2 linked regions of the Homo sapiens genome follow. The protein of the gene in region 1 interacts with the protein of each later gene in a biochemical or structural test. Each region holds a gene or a part of one and is shown in the gene's direction. Other genes may lie near its edges.

The links. Proteins that work in one complex are often made in the same cells at the same time.
Region 2: the proteins of SKI (region 1) and SMAD2 form a complex in vitro, tested with the Homo sapiens proteins (4 studies listed by BioGRID).

Annotation. Positions count from the first base shown.
Region 1 is NC_000001.11:2,223,862-2,231,892, forward strand, and holds the start of SKI (ski oncogene), read left to right. Parts: upstream 1-4,457; 5' UTR 4,458-4,905; coding exon 4,906-5,874; intron 5,875-7,582; exon of another isoform or gene 7,583-8,031. UniProt on the Homo sapiens protein: May play a role in terminal differentiation of skeletal muscle cells but not in the determination of cells to the myogenic lineage. Functions as a repressor of TGF-beta signaling.
Region 2 is NC_000018.10:47,864,351-47,872,565, reverse strand, and holds part of SMAD2 (mothers against decapentaplegic homolog 2), read left to right. Parts: intron 1-2,001; coding exon 2,002-2,091; intron 2,092-3,129; coding exon 3,130-3,323; intron 3,324-4,108; coding exon 4,109-4,243; intron 4,244-7,432; coding exon 7,433-7,507; intron 7,508-8,215. UniProt on the Homo sapiens protein: Receptor-regulated SMAD (R-SMAD) that is an intracellular signal transducer and transcriptional modulator activated by TGF-beta (transforming growth factor) and activin type 1 receptor kinases.

The DNA of each region.
Region 1 (8,031 bases):
AGGAGTTCAAGACCAGCCTGGCCAACATAGTGAAACCCTGTCTCTACTAAAAATACAAAATATTAGCTGGGCATGGTGGCAGGCGCCTGTAATCCCAGTTACTCGGGAGGCTGAGGCAGGAGAATCGCTTGAACCTGGGAGATGGACGTTGCAGTGAGCTGAGATCGCACCATTGCACTCCAACCTGGGCAACAAGAGCGAAACTTCATCTCAAACAAAAACAAAAACAAAACAAAATTATACGAAGCTGATGTTACTTGAGCAATTTTTATTTTCACATTTGAAGGTTTCTTTCCCAGTAACTGAGCATGTTTTTGCCAATGGCAGTCTATGCCTGGCTGCTACAAGGCCTTCCTTCTGCTTCCTGAGGAGGAGAGAGTGGGTGGCAGCAGGGCAGGGCAAGGCAGGGTGGAGCAGAGCTGGTCTGCGATGCATTTCCCCACCAAGGTTTCCAAGTTCCCCCAAAGCTTGGGGTACCCCTTGCTTTGCCAGTGTCTTCCTCTTTCTGGTCCTGGGGCGCCATCCAACTCATCTCCACACTGCTGGCTCCTTAAGGTGGGGGTCTCAACTCCAAGGCCAGCCTCCCAGGAGGCCCTCCCTGCCTACAGCCAGCCCCAGCCACTCCGCGCCTTTTGGGGATCTGAAAGATCTCGCTCCCGTACTAGCAGGTTTGTTGATTGACTGTTGTCTCTCACACCAGAATGGAACCACACGGGGTACAACCTGGTCTCCTTACCCTGATCCCAGTGTCTACAGTGGTAGGAGCTCATCGAACAAGGGGACAAACTCATGACTAGCTGACCAAGCCTGTCACCGTGGTAGGGGCCAGGGAGAAAGCTGGGAGGTCCCTGCCTTTGCCCGCATGCCAGGGCTTCTCTGGGCAGGCACCACGTCCATCCCACCCTACTCCGCGCTGTGGCTGTGCCTGCAGCCTTAACCCGCGGCCTGCCAGTATGGTGGCCCGCGTGGGCGACTGGCCTGGGCAGCTGCTGGGCGGGGCTGGAGGGTGGAAGGCCAGCAGGCGGGAGACACCCCCCACCCTCTTCCCTGCCAAGCTCAGGAAGAAAAGTGGACCCTGGTGGCTCCCTCTAGGCGTGGCTGCTCTGACCCTTGGTGGGGTGGGTGCCTTCCTCTGGAAGCTCTGACATATTGGGGGAAGGAAGTCTCAAGAGTCCACAAAGGTGGAGGTAGCTTCAGAGACCAACTGGAGGCCCTCACCTGTCCCCGCACCTTCACTCCATGGCACACCTATGGCTACTTCCCAGGGGTCCGCACTCTGGACAAAGTGTTGGTCCCTGGCTAGGACCCTGCAAAGCCAGAGGCACAGAAGGAAGCAGAGGCTCTGGGTGGGCACTGCCCATGCTAGGGGCCCTGCACAGAGCCCCTGGTCCACCAGAGGAGCCAGAGGAATTCTCTGCTTGATTGGAGACACTTCCCAGCAGGCCTGGCTGCAACCACCTTCTCTGAGTTACAATTTGACTGAGTTGTATGGAATTCAAATCCAGATGGAAGGAAGTGACAACGTCAAGTGCAACACTAGCTGTGTTTTGTCCAAAACGTGGGCCAACGAAACTATCTCCAGGAAAACAAATAAGTCCCTTTTCTATTTTTTTTTTTTTTTTTTTTGAGACAGAGTCTCACTCCATCGCCCAGGCTGGAGTGCAGTGGTGCAGTCTCAGCTCACTGCAATCTCCACCTGCCAGGTTCAAGCGATTCTCCTGCCTCAGCCTCCCGAGTAGCTGGGATTACAGGCATGTGCCACCATGCCCGGCTGATTTTTGTATATTTAGTAGAGAGGGGGTTTCACCATGTTGGCCAGGCTGGTCTCCAACTCCTGATCTCAAATAATCCACCCGCCTCAGCCTCTCAAAGTGGTGGGATTACAGGCGTGAGCCCCTGCGTCTGGACTGAATATCCTTTTTTTTTTTTTAGACGGAGTCTCGCTCTGTCGCCCAGGCTGGGGTGCAGTGGCGCAGTCTCGGCTCACTGCAAGCTCCGCCTCCCAGGTTCACGCCATTCTCCTGCCTCAGCCTCCTGAGTAGCTGGGACTACAGGCGCCCACCACCACGCCCAGCTAATTTTTTGCATTTTTAGTGGAGACGGGGTTTCACCGTTAGCCAGGATGGTCTCGATCTCCTGACCTCGTGATCCGCCTGCCTCGGCCTCCCAAAGTGCTGGGATTACAGGCATGAGCCACTGAGGCTGACCCTTTTTTTTTTTTTGAGACAGGGTCTGTCTCAAAAAAAGGGTGTGTCCCTATCACCCAGGATGGAGTGCAGAGGCTCAAGCACGGCTCCCCGCAGCCCCAACCTTCTGGGCTCAAGCAATCTTCCCACCTCAGCTTCTCAAGTAGCTGAGACCACAGGTGCAGGCCACCATGCCCGGCTAATTAAAAAAAAAAATTATTTTTTGTAGACAGGGTCTCACTATATCGCCCAGGCTAGTCTTGAACTCCTGGGCTCAAGCGATGCGCCTGCCTTATCTTCCCAAAGTGCTGGGATTACAGGCGTGAGCCACCTTGCCGGGTTAAATATCACTTTTAAGGAAATGATCTTCTTACCCAGCTTTCTGGTGTGTGAACACACAGAGAAAGCCTGGCCTCCAATTGTGGGGGCCAACGGAGTGAATGGGAAGAGTCGGGGGACAGTGTGGAGTGTGAGGACAAGGAGACAACCCCCAAGGCAGCGGAGAGAGGGAGTATGGAGCCGCCCTGGGGTCACCTACAGGTAGGTCCTGGCTGCCTCTCTAGACACCTGCCCTGCCGCAGGTCCGGCCAAGACCTGCACAGGGACTCCGGGCCGGCTCCCCCAGGATAGGAACTGCGCCCAGGAGTGCTGGTTTGAGGCAGGTTCCAGCCTCCACTGGGGAAGTGAGGGGCAGGAGGTCCCAGCTGAAGGTCACTCAGGTTGCAGCGGCGTGGCCCTCTCGCCTCCGCCCAGCACCCAGGCCAGCTTGGGCACCCCCGGCCCGTGGGGCATGTCCCTCCGCCTCAGGCGAGCACAGACCGAGCCCTGCCCCTCCCCAAACACACCATTGCGTCCCTGCGCCCGCAGGCCTCGCTGGAAGCTGCCTCCCCTGGAGACCACCCGGCCGACTGTCCAACTTCGGGGCCCCGGGCTTCCCGCTCCCCGCCCTGCCAAGGCTTGAGTCTCTCCCACTGCGTGGCCAGGCGTGGAGGGCCGGCCGATCCGACCCCGAAAGACGTCTCAGCGCTCCACGGCCCCGGGGCGGAGGTCAGGGGTCTCGCCGGCCCGAACGCCGGGCCCCGCGGGGCCGAAGTCCTGATAAGCCACCTGGCAGGAGTGGCTGGCAGACCGGCTGCGTCTGGGGCACCGGGCGCCGCCCCTCCCAGGCCCGAAGCCCCCGGCCCGCGCAGCAGGGACACTCCGCCAGGGGCCGGCGGGCGGGGCGGGGCCGGCGCGGCCGGGAGCCGCGGACACTCGGCCACCGAGCCACCGGCCACGGCGCAGCGGGGGCCGCCGGGCTGCGCCGCCAGGGTCACGCGACGCGGTGCCCGTCTCGGCGCAGGGTCCCTGGGCGTGGCCGCTGTCCCCCTCGTGTGTGGGACCCCAGGTCACCGTGTGGCGTCCCGGTAGTGTGTGGGACCCCAGAGGCGTCCGGGGCCTCCCCGCTGTGTGGTGTCCCACCCTGGGAGAACCCCGGGTGCGTGGCGTGGCCCCCCGGCCGCCCCCAGCTGGTTTGCGGTCGTGGCGGGGGCCTGTGGGTTTCTGGGCCCCGACGGCGGCGAGACGGGCGCCTTCCCAGCGGCGCAGGAAGCGGCCTCGGCCGGAAGGGGGGCCCCGGGCGCCACCGCCGCCTCCGCCTCCGCCCGCGCCCAGCGGCCCTCGGCGGGCGGGGCCGAGCGGGGCCGAGCGGAGTCGAGCATGGCCGAGCGTAGCCGAGTCCCGGCCGAGCGGAGCCGAGTCATGGCAGGGCGGGTCCGAGCGTGGCCGAGTCCCGGGCGAGCGGAGCCGAGCGCGGCCGAGTCCGGGCGGGGAGCGCGCGTTCCTGGAAGAGCCCGGCTGGGGAGCGGGTCACATTCTTGGCCAGCGCTAGGGCTGAGGCGGACGCACGGCAACAAACAGCGCGGGGGGCGGGGCCGGCGCGGGGCGGAGCGGGCGGCGCGGGGCGGGGCGGCGCGGCGGCGGCGTGAGCTCAGCGCCGGGCGCTCAGTCCGAGCCGGAGCGAGCCGCCGGGAGGATGTGCGCCGAGCGCCCCGAGCCCCGCGCCGCCGCCGCGCTCTGAGGGCCGCGGGCGAGAGGCGCCTCCGCCGCCCCGGAAGCCGGGCGGGCGGGCCGCGGAGCCGGCGGGCGGGCGGGCCGGGGGCCGGCGGCGGGCGCGACGCGGCCGGCCAGCGCCGCCGGGACGAGCCGGGCGGGCGCCTCGCGGTGGGAGGAGCGGGGCGGCGGCGGCGCGCCGCGCGAGGACGGCCCGGCGGGCCCCGCGCCCGCGCCCCCGCTCCTCCCGGGCCCCTCGGCCTCGGCCGCCGCGGCGATTCGCGCCTCGCGGCGCCGGCACCTGCCCGCGCGCCCCCCGCGAGCCCCGGGCCCGCGAGCGTTGGCGTTGGCGTTGGCGGCGCGCGCCGGGGCATGCCCCGCGCCTAGAGCCCGGGGGGCGCGCGGGGGACGCGCGGGGGGCCCGGGCGGCGGCGGGCGCGGCGCGGGGCGCGTGGATGTGGCGCCGGGCCCGGGCGGCGGCGGGCTCCAGCGGCGGGACCCCTTCGCCCCGCCCGCCTTCCCCTTCGCGCCCCCGGGCGAGGCCGCGGCCGTGATCGGCCGTGAGCCGGCGGCGGGGGGCGGCCGGGGTCGGGGCCGCGGGCGCCGCCGGGGCGCGCGGGGCGGCGGCGGGGGCCGGGGGGGCCCGGGCGCGCGGGAGCGGGAGCGGCCGGGGGAGCCGGAGCGCACCATGGAGGCGGCGGCAGGCGGCCGCGGCTGTTTCCAGCCGCACCCGGGGCTGCAGAAGACGCTGGAGCAGTTCCACCTGAGCTCCATGAGCTCGCTGGGCGGCCCGGCCGCTTTCTCGGCGCGCTGGGCGCAGGAGGCCTACAAGAAGGAGAGCGCCAAGGAGGCGGGCGCGGCCGCGGTGCCGGCGCCGGTGCCCGCAGCCACCGAGCCGCCGCCCGTGCTGCACCTGCCCGCCATCCAGCCGCCGCCGCCCGTGCTGCCCGGGCCCTTCTTCATGCCGTCCGACCGCTCCACCGAGCGCTGCGAGACCGTACTGGAAGGCGAGACCATCTCGTGCTTCGTGGTGGGAGGCGAGAAGCGCCTGTGTCTGCCGCAGATTCTCAACTCGGTGCTGCGCGACTTCTCGCTGCAGCAGATCAACGCGGTGTGCGACGAGCTCCACATCTACTGCTCGCGCTGCACGGCCGACCAGCTGGAGATCCTCAAAGTCATGGGCATCCTGCCCTTCTCGGCGCCCTCGTGCGGGCTCATCACCAAGACGGACGCCGAGCGCCTGTGCAACGCGCTGCTCTACGGCGGCGCCTACCCGCCGCCCTGCAAGAAGGAGCTGGCCGCCAGCCTGGCGCTGGGCCTGGAGCTCAGCGAGCGCAGCGTCCGCGTGTACCACGAGTGCTTCGGCAAGTGTAAGGGGCTGCTGGTGCCCGAGCTCTACAGCAGCCCGAGCGCCGCCTGCATCCAGTGCCTGGACTGCCGCCTCATGTACCCGCCGCACAAGTTCGTGGTGCACTCGCACAAGGCCCTGGAGAACCGGACCTGCCACTGGGGCTTCGACTCGGCCAACTGGCGGGCCTACATCCTGCTGAGCCAGGATTACACGGGCAAGGAGGAGCAGGCGCGCCTCGGCCGCTGCCTGGACGACGTGAAGGAGAAATTCGACTATGGCAACAAGTACAAGCGGCGGGTGCCCCGGGTGAGTGGCCCCAGGCCTGGGAGCTGGGGAGGATGCGCTTGGGGTGGGGGCCCCTTCTGGACTACAGGCTCTGGTCTCCGAAGGCTGGGACCTGTGCTTCTGCCGTGCCCCATGTCTCCAGTCTTCGCTTTGTTTTAGGGAAATTCAGAGTGTTCCGACTGGCAGGGCCAGAGAGTTTGGTAGGAAGGCCCTCCTGCCCGTTCCCCAGGACGAGCCTGGAGTGCGGGCTGTGGCGGTGGGGTGGGGGGCCAGGCCTGGTGTGTGGGGAAGGCCCGCAGGCCCACAGGCATTGCCCAGATAGGAAGGCACAGGCCTCATGCTCCCGAGAAAGCGGCCTGCCCCAGGTCAGGGAAGTTAGGTCCAGCTGGGCCACGGCCCGGATGCCTCAGGCCCAGGTCTTTCTTGGGGTTGGGGTGAAGGTGGCTGTCCTCGCCCCGAAGGCACCCAGCCTCGAAGACGGAGGGCTGCCTGCCTTTGGGCCCCAGGAGACAGAGCTTGGGTGAGGCGAGGCCTGGTTTTGTTACTGGCTCCCGCTCCCTGTTTGGTGCCTTGAAGTTTTGGGACACAGACACAAAATGAAGCCAGGTGTCCAGGCTTCAGTGGCAGGGGCCCGAGACTTGGCGGCTCCAGCACTGTGCTGGTTGGTCTCCCTGGGCCTGCCAGGGACCAAATCCCAGAGTCCGCCGTGTGGGGTGAGGGCCATTTGGCACCCGGCTGAGGGGCCTGGTCAGCAGGCTCCTGGGCCCGCGTGCTGGAGTTACTGGCGGCCTGCGATTTGCTTTGGACTCACCCATTTCCTTCTCTCCCTCTGAAACGCAGAGGGGTGCGCCGGAGAGGGAGGCTGCTGGCCTGGCTTTGTTGTTTGCCAGTTGGAGGATCTATGGGATCCGGCATGGGCAGCTCCCAGGCCACGAGGTGCCGAAATTACTCAGTGGGGTCCTCAGGAACTTTCCGTTGCGTACCTCCCCAAGTATTTGTAACTTTTCTTTTAAATATCCAGGCTTATTAAATTGCACACACAGAATGCTGCATTGGCTCAGCTATTCTTGGGAGGCCTAATTAATTCAGCTATTGCATCAAACTTTTTTTTTCTAAATCTGTGAATAGATGCTCCAGCCCGGTTTTCTCTGGGCGCCCCTCCAGCAGAGTGTCAGATCGTGGGGAGGAGGGGCTGTGGATGGAAGCGAGGGACTGTCGCCTCTGCTCGGAGGGGGCTGCGGAGGGTGCATGTGTGTGTGCATGTGTGTGTTTGTGTGTGCGCGCTTCTGACCCTGCCAGGCCAGGGCTCAGGTGGCAGCCGCCTGCAGACCTGTGGGCTGGGGAAGGATGCTCGTGGCAGAGCTGCAGACAGACGTAGCAGGCTGGGGCCCTTCGTGTCACACGGGGAGTTGGTTGGGGTGGGCCCGATGGCGCTCCCTGTGGGCTGGGGCCTTTCTTTTTGGGGTGGCCGCACCCTCGTCAGTGCCTGTGGCTGGAGGAAGCCACATGTCGGGGGGGATTGTGGGCTCGTGCAGGCTGCGTAGTGGGTCACCTGTGGCCAAGGCCTGAGCTGCTGGGACACGCTCACGTCACTGTCTTCAGAGCTGATGGCAGAGGATCTCGGTTGAGCAGGGTGTGTCTGCGTTTGTTTTTGTCCGACTGTGGGTCATGTGTGTGCTTGTGGTCTTTCTGTCTTCCTGGGCTTTGCTGGGGGCCCATTGGAGTGGCCAGTGGGGCCTCGTTGTCACAGCTGACACAGAGCAGGGCCCAGGCCACCCGGCTTCTCTCTCCCTGTGGTTGTGAGCGCCGGGGTCCTTGGGCCGCCATAGAGACAGGCCAGACAGGCTCTGGTCATCTCAGCGGATGCCTCCGAGCCGCCTTTCCCTTTTGAAGTCCCCAGCACTGCTCTGAAATTTCATTTACCGATTAAAAAGCAATTCCCAGGCCATACTGACGACGTGCACGGTGTGAGTGACTGCGTCCTCTAGGCCTGAGTGGCAGCCACACAGCCTGGCCCTGGCAGTGGTGTCCTCCGCCTGGCTCCCTGAATGTTCACCAGCTCCTGCGGGTTTTCCTCTCCTCATGCTCCTGGGGGTGGGGCACCCATCCTGCCCGTGTTGCCTCCTGCTCTATGTTCTTGACGTGGGATGGCGGCCAGGGACTCTGCCCTCGCTCAGT
Region 2 (8,215 bases), on another chromosome or scaffold:
CGTGGACCGGTATCAGTCTGTGGCCTCTGAGACTCCTGCTTTAAGTCATCTCTATATTATGCATAATATGTAATACATTGTAAATGCTGTGTAAATAGTTGTTATACCATATTGTTTTTAAATTTTGTATTTTTCAATTGTTGTATTTTTTAGTTTTAAAAATTTACTTATTTTTTCTACTTTTTGATCCACGGTTGGTTGAATCCAAGGATGTGGAACCCTTGGATACAGAGGGCTCTATGTTTTATTATAAATTGGCTTATTTTAAAAAATATTTTTTATTATGTAAACAGGCAATGATTTTACTAGCTAGAAGCAAATTTAATGTTTTAAAATAAACCTTCCAATTTTGTTAGGCATGATAATGATGGAACTGAGGCTTAAATATACCCTATGGCAGCAGTTGGAAAGTGGCCGAATTAGGGTTGGGGTCTAGATCTGTCTGCCTCTAGATTGATTGCAAGTTCTTAACAATTACTGTTTATTCTTCTCTGATTCCTTTCAAGGATTAAATAAAGTACAATGTAAACTTCATGCTCTATTTTAGATTCTGGTTCTCATGTGAGTCCCAGAATAACTTGAGTGAAATGTTCTGATACAGAGCAGAATAGCCTCTTGTGCTACACTTTTGTTAATTATTTTCAAAGAATAGTCTCCTGTATACCATTTCTTTAATAGACTCAGAAGTCTGTAGAATTGAGGTGATTCTGTTGTGATTTAAACTACATCATGCTATATGTTTCCAATAGATATTTGAAAATATCTTTTAAATAAACCATTAATGTCATGGTTTTTAAATCAGTATATCTTTGGAAAAAAGGGAAAGGTCTAAGCCTTAATTTACCTGGCTTTTTCTGGCTTTTATAGTCTGGTAAATTTTGCAGCCTGAAAAAGCAAGAGAATCTATAAAATACTTGAATGAGATGCTGGAAAATTTCAGAACAGGTTTTGTTTTGAACTGTCGGGTCACTGTAGCCCCCAAAGCAGGGCATGATGTGTTCCTGCAGCCTGATAGCTATGTGACAGCACCTGTAGTACTAAAGCCAAGGATGCCAGGTGGTTCTGTTGCCTGGCCACAGGAAGCCAGCGCTTCTCACCATTGCCCTTTGAACTGTTGATCCAGTTAAGCTCACTAACAATGTGTAAATATGAAATTTAATCAATTGCTTGATTCATTTTCAAAAGATGTTTTGAAATACTCCTTTATCCGCATTGAAGTTTTGATGATTTTGTAATATGTAAGAAATGGACTTTTCAGAAAAGTACAACTTAGTACTTGAGACATTGGCTGTCAAAGTTCCATTCCAAAACTTCCTTTTAAGCTCTCTTTCCCTTCTCTCACTGACCAGAAGTTACTATGAAATGAAATAAAGGTAGGGAAAAAGGGAGAATTATCTCTGAGCTGCCCATATTCTGGAGAGAAATGTGGGAGAAAATTTTTAAGGTGGTATACTAAATTAGAATGACTTCAAAGTCTATTTCTTTATTTATTCTAGAGATGAGAACAAAATAATTTTCAGTAAAACTTAAAAATATCATGACCAGATAACCTGAAAATCTTAACTGTGGATGCATGTCTATTTTTATTGGGATTTTTTTCTATATTAAAAATCAGTTGACATCTGTTTTTAGATAATTTTTTAAAAAACTGGATTATAAAATGAAGCACTTAGTAAAGCTGATGGCAGAGGTTTTAGATCTTTTGAATACAGGAAAGTGGTAAGGGCATTATAGGTATGATTCATTGAGCTAGAGGGCGTTGGTGTTCACATTTTAAAAACATAATCATGACTTATCTGGAGTCACATGTTCCATTTTATTGGCTTCCTTCATATAGAAAATATAGTAACCAGCACTACATGCCTGTGAAAAAGTGAAGCAATTGTATATTTTCTGGGTGAAGGAAGTATTCTGTACATTCTCCATGTTTTACATCATGGTATTTTGAATAACCATGCTTCCATGTTCACATCAATTTTTTGTTTTTCAATTTATGCACAGCACTTGCTCTGAAATTTGGGGACTGAGTACACCAAATACGATAGATCAGTGGGATACAACAGGCCTTTACAGCTTCTCTGAACAAACCAGGTGAATATTCTGCCCTCTGTCGAATCTTAGAGATCTTGTGGGAGGGGGGTATATTTTGAAAGACCTATATGGGGTTGCTTAGTATAATTTTGCCTAGGATGTTTCCTTAATGTAAAATAAGGCATAGCATTTAAAATATCTGCTTGCCAGTATAAAAAATATATTAAATGTTTCAGCTGATGTTTTAATCAATGCAATTCTAGTTTGAATCTTCTTTAAATTACTGTATCCCCTAAAGAATAATAATTTTGATAACTATATATTTATTTTAGCTTGAGATCAGATTATAATCTGTTGTTGGCCTAATTTTTAAGTAGATACATGATGAGTTTTGCTAAATTTCTTGTTATCAGAATCTCATCTTTATACTAATAAATACATACTTAATGAACCCCTTATATCACAATTAACAGTAGGTTAACTCATTTTTATGTTACTTTTTTTAATCACTTCATTTTCTTTTTTGCGTATATGGTATTTGTTCATTTCATCTCATCATATTCATCACCATCCACATTTATTTGTGAACTACATAAATATACCTCAGTTCTCAAAACAGTCACAACTGGGTAAAGAGTTGCAGTAGTCTGAGGAAGTTACTATCACATCATTGTTGGTATTTATCATTCTTCACACTAGTTCCTTTTCTGACTCTTCAGTCACCTCCAGAATTAATATCCTTAGAAGCATCTCTAAAATGAGTTTGATTTACTAAACATAGAAGTTGACAAAGTTTTTCAAGTATAACTGCATAAACTCTCTTTTTTAAAAAATCAGTTTTTCCCAAGTTGTTAGCCTTTCATTGGCATTTGAGTCATTTATGTGACATATTTATAAGAAACATCTGCTAGTGCTGCTGCATACTTTTATCAGATCCATTAAATAGTACATTTTTGTTCTTGATTCTCACTAAAACTAACTAAATGGCTGTCATTCTTTTCTTTATGCTTTTATTGTACTAATTTAGCCCATTTGACTGCACTTTTTTTTTTTTTTTTTTAAAGTTCCCTCCTTTCTTTTCCCCTTGCTTCCCAACAGGTCTCTTGATGGTCGTCTCCAGGTATCCCATCGAAAAGGATTGCCACATGTTATATATTGCCGATTATGGCGCTGGCCTGATCTTCACAGTCATCATGAACTCAAGGCAATTGAAAACTGCGAATATGCTTTTAATCTTAAAAAGGATGAAGTATGTGTAAACCCTTACCACTATCAGAGAGTTGAGACACCAGGTAGGAATATTGCAAGTTTTTTTCTTGGTTTTGAATTAAATGCCTGAACTTCAGTATATTTAAGTACTCTTGTGACCCAGGAAAATTTTAGTGTAAATTCTAATAAATTACCTTAAATTGTGCATATTATTTGGTGGTAATTAAAATTTTTTTATTTTTAAAAATTTTTAATGAGAAAACATATCTGTTTCTTGGAATAGCATATGATTTGGCATGAAAGTGCATATCCAGGAAATCCTGTAGATTGGCAGTCTGCTCAGCGCTATGCTGATGTGCTTCTACATGTCCCTGCTGCAGTAACATTTTCAAGCATTTTGCACTTGGAGTGCTTTTAGAAGTACTTTAATGACATCATTTGTATGTACACCGTTTAGTAAAGCTTGTAACAAGACTTTTCATTTAGTTAGCTGTCTACCTGAAACTATTAAAAAATATAGCAGTAGCTGCGTTTTTGGAAAATTTCCTATATCTGATTTTACAGATAAAGACAATGTTAAGTTTTCCAATGGGGATTTATGAACTTTTATGGTAATATAATATTACCAGGATCACATTGTTCCCAAAAGTTTGAGATAAATTAGAACTTGGAAATTTGGATAATAGACTACCTAAGTTAGAGCCATAATCAGATTTGTCATTTTCTCAGTAACTAGTATATATCGAGTAGGTGGACCCTAGCTTTAAAAATTAAGCTACAACTTCTCTTCTTGTTGAAAACTTTAAAAAAGGTTCCCCCACTCCCCTTTGCTCTTTGCCATTAACTTGGATTTCTTGAACTTTTTCAGTTTTGCCTCCAGTATTAGTGCCCCGACACACCGAGATCCTAACAGAACTTCCGCCTCTGGATGACTATACTCACTCCATTCCAGAAAACACTAACTTCCCAGCAGGAATTGAGCCACAGAGTAATTATATTCCAGGTATTTTTGCCTTCTGAATCTCCTAAAACTTGGATAGATACAAATTTTGTTCATAAGCATTCAAGTTTTAGTAAATTGTGGTTTCACTTTTTTAAAAATGCTTTTGAGTTTTTAATAGAAAAATTGGATTCGTTGGGTGATTATTTTGTGAAATGTATAAGCCTAGTACATTAAACAGTTTTGTTTGGAGAAGAGTTTTACTTTATATTTCATTTTCTTTTGCAGTGACTTTAATCAAAGTACTGTGAGAAGCAGAAAAGAAAAGATCTTAGTAAGTTTGTCTTAGTTGTTGAAGCTAAGCGAGATGCAGAATGTAAGCAAAACAAATGGTGTAGGAGAAAAGTACCCCCCAAACACATGTAACTGAATATCCACCCAATGATCACTTTTTCTTAGATAACTTGGTAATATTTAACAGAAATATAACATTTCTATAAGAAATATAATACTTAGTTCTATAGACATAGCAACACTTACATATTATAACACGAACGTCAGAAAACCTCCTTTAATTATGTTTCGTCTGCATCTCAGTAATTTCTGATGAAAATTGAATTCAGCTACATGGTTCTCAAATTTTGTTCTGATGTATTATGTGATCCAGTAATACTCCACGATATGATATCTGGCCTTTTCGTTTTTTATGGTTTCTTTTTTTTTTTTTTGGAGAACAACTAATACTTTGTTACTTTTCTTGTATGTTTTCCTTTTTGTTTGGTTGATTTTTCTCCCTAGCAGAAACAGCATGATGTTAGGATGAGGATTAAGCTGTAGTGTCTCGATTTCTTTCTTCCTTTTGTAATATTCTTTTATTCCACTCTTATTTTATACACTAAAAATATGTAAGGAACTTAAGAGCATTTACAAAATTCTTAAAATACAGTTTTAGTACATTTAAACAATTATTTCTTTCATGTATCCATCATGGAAATAATGCTTATTCATTGAAGATAATTTTTTAAATGTAAGGAAGAAAAAAAAGAAAAGATAACTAAGAAAGATAAGTTTTTTTTTTAAATAGCTGGTTTTACAAATGGGAAGTGGTTTTTGATTGTTTTAATGTATATTTCTTTGATTACTGTTTTATTCCAGAAGAGGATTTAAAGCTGCTTTATGGGTTGCTAGGAAATACAAACTTACTGAAGTTAAGAGAGGGAGAGGGTGGGATGTAGTATGATAACACTAGGAGGAGGGAAAACCCGGGACTATGAAACAGGGCAATTGCTAGGTAGAAAAGGGAGTGGAGTTGTGTGAACGTTGGTGTGGGGAAGGGGAGGCATTTTAAGTCGTTAGTGTGGGAATTACTGTTATTCAGCCAGCAATACTAACCTTAGGTATAAACATGCAGTCTTAGGGACAACACGCATATCCAGTAATTATTTGGAAGGCTATTCACCAGAATGTTTAGTGGCTTTCACTTGTGAAGATGTTTGGGCTCATTTTTCCTTTCTTTTTTATTCCTTTAATTATTGAGATTTGAGTATTTTATAAAGTAGAAAATCAGAAGTGGATTATACCCATTTGCTTTTCTGGACAGTGGGGCTTTATCCGGTTTCAAGCAACAGCAAAACCAAAGGGTTCACATTTTATTCCACTTAAAAGAAATTTTAACATTTTCTCAAAAATGCTAATAGCTTTATTATTTATTACAATAATGGAAAAAATAAACACAGTAAGATAACGTATTTTAAGGTTCAGCATTTCTTTCTGATTAGATCTTTGAAATACAGGTTAAACTCAAAAAGCTTAGCGCCGTTTAACTTTATTAGCTTTAACTTTTAAAATATGCATAATATGTACCCTTATTTTTATGTTCTTTGAGTATATGAAGATAATTTATTCTTAGAATTTTTGTTTTAAAAATTTGGGGGTACTGACACTTAAATGAAAAGTTTGATACTTAAAGTTTGTGGTTAGTTTATTGAATAGATATTGTAAAAGGTTATTGAAGGAGACCCTTAACCTGTATCTTCTCTTCCTCTTTTTTTTTTTTTTTTTTTTTTTTTGAGACGGTGTTTTGCTCTTGTTGCCCAGGCTGGAGTACAATGGTGTGATCTCGGCTCACCGCAGCCTCCACCTCCTGGGTTCAAATGATTCTCCTGCCTCAGCCTCCCTAGTAACTGGAATTATAGGGATGCACCACCATGCCCGGCTAATTTTGTGTTTTTAGTAGAGATGGGGTTTCTCCATGTTTGTCAGGCTGGTCTCGAACTCCCCACCTCAGGTGATCTGCCTGCCTCGGCCTCCCAAAGTGCTGGGATTACAGGCATAAGCCACCGCGCCTGGCCTCGTTCTTTTGATAATTTTAAAATTGTTTGGATATGTGTCTTTGTTATCTTGAATCGCTCAAAACTGTTCAGTGTAAATGTAAAACTGATGAAAGTCTTCTGAACTTATTTTTCCTCCCTGGAATTACAGTTGATTAAATTGTATACATGTTTTTATTTTACATGCAGTTTATTCAGCTATTCAGATACCTTTCTGAACATAAGTGTTTTATTCAGACAACATGTTGGAAATAATATATTAGAATCCTAATGGTTATTTTCAGGGAGCATTTTACCTCTTTATACAGTAGTCTATATTTGAATTGAATTTTCTGCTTCAAACACTTAGACTTTACCAGTTAGGAATCCTTGGAGAAACACACTTTTTAGATAGAATTCAGCCTGGACCAATCCGGAACCATACTCTACCATATTTTACCCTATAGAACTTAGTGTAAGTTGTAAGCCTGTATTATTTAATACTTTTATAATCCAAAATCTTGTGTGTTTTTTAATTTTCTAAGTACTCATAAAATAACGATGTTCATTAGATTAAACAACAACAACAAAAAATTGTAGTTACTGATGGTTTTGCAGCCTACTGATTCAGATCTGAGGCATTTTTAAAGTTACGTTTTTGGCTCTTGCCCCAGAATATGTACATATAGGAATGAGCAAGATACGTACATAATGTGTATGTCCAGAGAGTAGGATTTTATTAAAAGTGGATGTTAAGGATTCACTGCAAAATTTGGACAAGATCCTGAATTATACACCCTCAGTATGCAATATTACTTTTTATAATATTATATAACATTATTATTTGTTATTTGGAGTGATTCATTGGTTATCTCTGGTAGCTGAGAGAAAAGGTAGTGAGATTATGTTGCAGCTGTGCTTGATTTGTTTTAAACTTTTGTAGAAACGCCACCTCCTGGATATATCAGTGAAGATGGAGAAACAAGTGACCAACAGTTGAATCAAAGTATGGACACAGGTAAAAAAAATGTCTTTGAAAATTCCTCAGTTATTAGATATACATTTCTTGTATTGTTTGAAATTCACAAAAGATGTTACTCTTAAATTTAGAGAAGTTGAGACGCATACCAAAAAAGATGATCTTCTATCTTGATTTAACATATCTGAACTACCAAAGAGGTCCATGTTGTCACTGAAAAATTATAACGTATGCTACTCTGCAGAATAATTGTTATTTTTTATTAGAGTAAATGAAAATTTGAAAACATGCACATACTTTTATTTCTTTTTAAGTATTTGCTTCTGTTGAAAATTTTAGTAACCCTATGACTAAGTATCTCTCTGTGATAAAAAACCATAATTACTCAAATAACAGATTTTCAGAGGAATTTGGGGGTGAAGGATGGGGATCAGCTTTTCACTGCTTTTTTAACCTAATAGTGAGTTTTGAATTATAGTAGATTAATTTCTTATGCTTAGCTATCAACTCCAAAAAGTGATGAAGAAAAAAATTAAAGCTTTAAATCACGTCTTACGTAATAAAATGTATAACTCAGCAGAACTAATAAACTACCAGTGAAATCACTTTGATGTCATTGTAATTGTCCAGTTTGATTCATTTTACCTGTCTGTATCTTAACTGTTGGACACCTTAATATCACAACCTGACAAATTATACCATCAGTCTTTCTCCACATCTTAACACTAATGCATTCTTGGTTATGAT